Linked DNA regions of Homo sapiens: region 1 is linked to region 2. The links come from fine-mapping of genetic effects on gene expression. Tissue or cell type: whole blood. Region 2 holds a variant in brackets; the other region holds the start of a gene. All regions are shown on one strand. Distances are from middle to middle. Region 1 holds the start of MANEA (mannosidase endo-alpha). Region 2 overlaps MANEA (mannosidase endo-alpha).

Region 1 (2,915 bases), 23 kb before region 2:
TTTTGGCAATCAAGAAACATCATAAAAACTGGAAAGACAGTCCATAAACTAAGAGAAGACATTTGCAACACATGTAACTTACAAGAGAGAATTAAACTAGAAAAAATAAATATTATCTACAAAATAATTTTCAAAAGCAAGCAATTTAATAAAAAATGAGATAAAATTAAGAACAGGCTTTAGCAAAAGGGAAAATGCAAATTAAAAGAGCAATCAGATGCTCTTATCAGCAAAAACTTAAAAAGTCTAACAATAGCATAAGGGTAACGATGTGCCAGTCTAGTTTATGGGAAATGGACTTGTATACAGACGAATCTCAAAACCTCTCAAAACCTAAATTAGTGAAAAAAGGGGAAAAATGAAGAATGATTCACATATGAAATATAAAACTAGGAAAATAGTATTTTTAGGGAATCGTACATATGTAACTATTTTCAGAAATACAACGGAATGAGTAATATAAAATTCAGCATAATGGTGAACGGAAGGAAGGAGATGTTTTTAGAGAGTCTTCTTTCTAGAAGACTCCAAAAATACTGGCATTTTTTTTTTCTTAAGCTCTGTAGTGGGTACCTGGGCATTTTTCATTCTTCTTTAAGATATGCACATGAGATATACTCATATGTATATTTCCCAATTAAAATTGGTGTACAAAATCTTTTTAAGGAGAGCCCTTATGAAACTGTTCACATCAGCAAGTTCTAGCTTGAATAAGGACTTCCTGTTACTATGTAACCAAACAAAAGATAGCATTTTCTTGTTTTCTGAAGCTAATGTAAGATGGAAACCTTCAGTTGTAATCCTATTTCAAAAGTTCTTGCTCTTCACATCTGACTTATCCTCAATTATTTCTAGTACTTCAGTACAGATGTGATTTTATAGAATACATTCGCAAATTAAAAACGCCATCTCCATCTGCCTACCTTGGGCTTCCAAGTAAAGTTCTATTTTTACAAAAATCAAAACAGTTCCTCAACTTTAAAAGTTTGAAAACCAGTGTACTTGTAAAGCACTTGATGCAAGCAACTTCTGAATGTTTCACATAAAAACAAACAAAAATGTGTCCTCTGTAATACAGTTAGAGCCTCCCAACAGAGCCTCAGAAGACCGTTTCTAAAGGCAGTGAGTTCTACTTGCAGAAATAGGGCGGGAGTGCAGTCTGACTCCAATCCACACGTCCTTCCCCTCTGACAGAACGCCCCAAAACGCAGTCCTCTCTTTCTTCCGCGCCGCTCCCGCCCTAGTCCTCTTAGACCCGCGACCGGAGGCTCCGGAAGACCCCGAGCCCCGCCCGCTCCGTGACCCCGCCCCCACCCGTCCCGCCCCTGAAAGCGCCCGGAACGCTGTGCGCGCGCCTTCGGGGAGGAGGGGCTGTCTGGGCTCGGGGCGCGGCGGCAGTCAGCTCTATGTTCGCGGTCTTAACCTCTCCTCTGGCCGAGTCCTTGCAAGAAGTGAATTACCCGACCCTGGTGAGTAGCTGCAGGAGTCAGACCTCTTGGAGGCGGCGGCGCCAGCAGCGGCGGCAGGCACGAGGTCCACCGCGGGCGCCTGCGCGCTCGCCCGCCAGCCAATCTGGTGGCCGCTTTCCTCCGGGCGCCCTTTGACCCGGCGCCCCTCTGGCAGGCGCTGGTGGCGCCCAGCGGCGAGCCTGTAGCCCCCTCGATTAACCTAGGCTGTCACTCTTAGGCCTGTTTTAGTCTGCGTTAGTTTTACTGCCTTTTACACTGCTTTATCCCCACCTCACTGGCCTCGTCGCCGCCTCCTCTTTGAAACGGTACCTCCTGTCGCCTCGGATTTTCCTTGTCTCCCCGACAAGGTGGAAATTTCGGGTCGGATGGAAGCCTTTTTCAGCACCTTCTCCTTGTGCCCCCAGACTGCCTCTGGGCCTTGAGCCGACCGGGAGAGTAGAAGGATCGAGGCCTGCTGGGCTCTGGGTGCAACGGAAAGGTAGCTGTCGCCTCTGGGCATCGGGAGGAGACCGCCCGATGGCGAGGCCGCTAGAGATGGTTTTTCAGTTCACCTGTTAACGTGTTTGGCACTGTCATCTTAGACTCTTAGCCTTTGCTAAGTCGGGATGCAACAGTGCTGGATTAGTGTTTTTGTTGTTCCTTTTTCCAAAGAAGCAACTTGAAGTACAGGCAGGTATAACTGTTTGGTTTTGTTGTTGTAAGACCCTACGGATAAGTGTTAGGAGAAAATGTGGAAGTGCTATAAAACAACAACAAGGGGGGGATAATGTTGATTAAGAACTTGAAAATAAGAAAAATGGGACTGGAATAGGCTGTTCACGTTAAAGTATTGAGGCAGTAGTTTGAAACAAAAATATAAAGTAAAACCTAGATATTGGTGATACTGTATCACGTTGTTTGCAAATCACTTTCATGACAATACATCTATTTCAGGTGTATCACACCTGAAAAAAACATGAGTGCTGTGAATTTGTGGATTTTCAGGCTCAATGCAGAAAAACACCCCCCAAAACAAAAAATCACAACAATGAAAACACCATTTCCAGAGCTGTTGCTGTTATTCGTGTGACGAATAGTGAATGTATGATCATAAAATAGAATAAGCTGTCTTTAGATGAAGTTTGGGCACAGTTTATGGAGTAGGTAACAGTTAATCATTGTTTATTAGGTACATAATCCTTAATTGAAAACATAACCATATAGCAGCAGCTTTCATCTTGTGTCACAAAAATAACTGGTGTATCCTCTAAATTTGATTTGTCTAATACCTTAAAGGAAGGCAGAATAGCATGGACAAGAACTTGAGTTCTTGAGCCAGACTCGATCTGCTCCTTGCTAGGTGATTAACCTTAGATTGGTTTCTTGGCCATTTGCTGGCCCAGAGATTTTTGAAAAAGTTACCAACTGCTCAGCTTCATCATTTGTAAAATGAGGTTAAAAAAAATT
Region 2 (2,915 bases):
ATAAAAATTCATTGTTAATGAAGTCCTTAGTAACCAAAGTTCTTTAGCTTGATAAAGGGTGTCTCTTAGTATCTTATTTCAAACACTATATCTGATGGATATACTACACCTGTAGTCCCAGCTACTACTCAGGAGGCTGAGGCATGAGAATTGCTTGAACCTGGGAGGCAGAGATTGCAGTGAGCTGAGATTGGTGCCACTGCACTCCAGCCTGGGCGACAGAGTGAGAGTCTATCTCAAAAAAAAAAAAAAAAGTGATGTAGGTTCTTTTAACTAGAGACCACTCTGAGATTGCAACCACTCTTAAAATTTGCTGAAGCTTTTTATTTGCTCTGTAACTTCTTGCAGTTATATTCTAATGGAGGACAATCTGGTTTGTCCAATACTGGTAATTGAGCCCTGTAAGATATGTTATGGACCACTGTTGAAATATTTCGTTTCAAATAAAAATGTGAAACATTAGTTTTGTCTTAATTTTCCTTTTGCAGCCTAGAGATTGAGTAGTTATTGGAGAATAGAAATGGAACTGTAGGGAGTGAGAAAGAGCTAAATAGGCAAGCATTTTTTTATTTCTGTCCATAAAGCTGCCTCTTCTTTCTGATTTACTATCCTGAAACTGTTAAGACAGCATCTCTCAAATTAGCTGTCTAGCAAGAGCTGTCACCTGCCATGTCCCTTGGTGCCTTTCAGTGAGTTCTTATTGGCATTTGAAATCTGCAAATAGGCAAGCCTCCAGGTTCTGGTGCCCAGGCTGAGGTTGGGTAAGTGATTGATTTATCTTCCACAAAACAAGCCCAAGAGCTGCTTTTCTGTCCAGGCCCTGCCAAAATCCTGGAAGATGGAAGCTCAAGAAACTGGCTATTTTAGTACTTTCAGGAAGTTTTGAAAGAGAAAATGAAAATGTTATGATATATGAGGATTGGTTGGCTTTTTCTCCTGTTTAAAGTGTCTGTGTAGAGAAGGAGAGTGTGGCAAAGAGCTCGACCACTAATTGCCTATTTAATGTTGCCAGCATACTTGATCTCTCTGTGCTAGGGATTTTATATCTAATGATCAGAAAAACTTGGAACACGATAGACTAATGTTTTCCAAAATTTTTAGAACAGTTTCTTGGCCTCGTGTATGGTGAGGAACTATGTATAGACAAAGAATAGACCTGGAATCATGAGACTGGAGCTTGTTCTAACTGAGTAGCTCTGGAATCTTATATTAGTTCCTTGATCTTCTTGGCTTATCCCCTTCATTTGTACAATGACAATGAAACCATAAGATAGTTTTATTGGATTTGTCTATGATTTCTGTTGTTGTGGAACAGACATTTTTCCTAA[C/T]TCAATAAAATGCAGTAAATCCTGTTTTTTTAAAGAATGGAAAACTTTCCCTTTTCTTGCTAATATAAGGAAATTTTAATATGTTTAATGAATGACAGTACCTTACTAGAATTATTCAGTGTGCTAAGGCAATCTGATAGGAAAAGATTAATGATGTTGTAGATTGTGTGCTGACAAATTGGAGCCTCCAATGCACATAACTGACCACATCTAAAACTTTTAAGTGTAAAATGCGTTCATTAGTAACATCTCTTTTTTCTTGCTAGTCTTCAAAGCATGGAAATACTAAATGGATGGAGAATTTTTAGGGAATGAATCCGTCTCACAGTTAAACTTTTGTTATAGTTCATTCATTTTGATTATATAATGTTTTTACTAATATTAGTCATTAAATATTTTGTAATTGTAATTTTGATTTGTTAACTTCAACCAAGAGTTATTTTAAGTAAGTGCCTTTTAAATTATAAACAAACATGCAAGAAAAGGAAATGATTGGTGCTTTAGTTATTTTTCATTATCTTTAGCAAATGTGACTAGGTTTTTTTTTGGAAGTGTAAATGAGTGAAACTAAAATTTAAATCTTGATTTTTCAAAGCGATTTAGTTTCTGTTCTTTTAAAGTATACTTGTCTGCATGTTTGCTAGAGCAAAGGCTGTTGCACTTATAACTGTCATTTAGTAGGCTGGTTTTGCAGAGAGTGTAAAAATCAGGGCTGGATTCCTTCCTCTATATCCTGCACCATTAAGAACACAGCAACGGAACAATTTTTTGAGTAAGACATGACAGAAATATTTGGTAGATTCCGTCATTGTTTAGCAAATAATCTGGTTTTCCTTCCCCTGCATGCAAAGAGTAAGTATACTTCCTGCCCTGTTGTTGTTGGGTTTGGCCTTATGGCTTGCTTTGGCTGATGAGATGTGAGAAGAGATAATGTATACTATGTGCTTGCATGATTATGCTCTTATTCTCTTTTATAAGAAAAGCATGCCCCTTTCTGCCTAGGACTCAGAATGACAGACACGTGGAGCTGATTTGAACCAGCCTGGAGCAGAACCATCATAAGCCAGTTCATAGATTTTATGTTCGAAAAGCAAATGTTTGTCTTTTAGAGCCACTGAGATTGTGGGGTTGTTACATGGCATTATCTAATCAAAACTTGACTGAATTAAATCATTCATCTAAGTAAAAGAAAATTAGGCAGATTCAGTGATTTTTTTTTTTTTTTTTTTTTTTTTTTTGCTTAGGATTATAGGGGAAAGAACCAACTCAGCCCTGGTGATCTTCTTTCATTTTAATAAATTTAGTATGTTATTTTAAAGTAGCATATTTTCTTTCTACTTTATGCAGAAATCACATTTCTTATACTAGGTTTATCAACATCCATTATTTCTTTGCATATGGCTCTAGAGTCATTTTATCTGCTTTTCAGGCTTATGCAGATTTCAACCATGTGAAACATGAATATAAGTATGTCCGTGATTCTTTTTTAAATGATTTTCACCTACATTTGAAACATGTTATATTAGTCATGGCCTCTCCTTTTTCTTTTTCCTTGTTAAATGAATATTGTGAATTCATGGCAGAAAC

Evidence for each region. PIP is the estimated chance that this variant, and not a neighbour inherited with it, causes the effect.
Region 1: it holds the start of MANEA, and the variant in region 2 is fine-mapped to the expression of MANEA in whole blood (INTERVAL, PIP above 0.99).

Annotation. Positions count from the first base shown.
Region 1 is chr6:95,576,170-95,579,084 of GRCh38, forward strand. It overlaps MANEA (mannosidase endo-alpha), which reads left to right and starts at 1,366. Exons shown (of 5, transcript NM_024641.4): 1 at 1,366-1,469. MANEA-DT (MANEA divergent transcript) reads right to left here and starts at 1,282. Exons shown (of 3, transcript NR_104136.1): 1 at 924-1,282. RefSeq lists silencers at 1,106-1,185, 1,236-1,325, 1,606-1,665 and enhancers at 1,462-2,402, 1,866-1,965.
Region 2 is chr6:95,599,179-95,602,093 of GRCh38, forward strand. All of the region lies in intron 3 of MANEA (mannosidase endo-alpha), which reads left to right. Among named protein-coding and RNA genes, the nearest start is that of MANEA, 23 kb to the left of the region's middle. The variant C/T (reference allele first, on the strand shown) is at 1,329.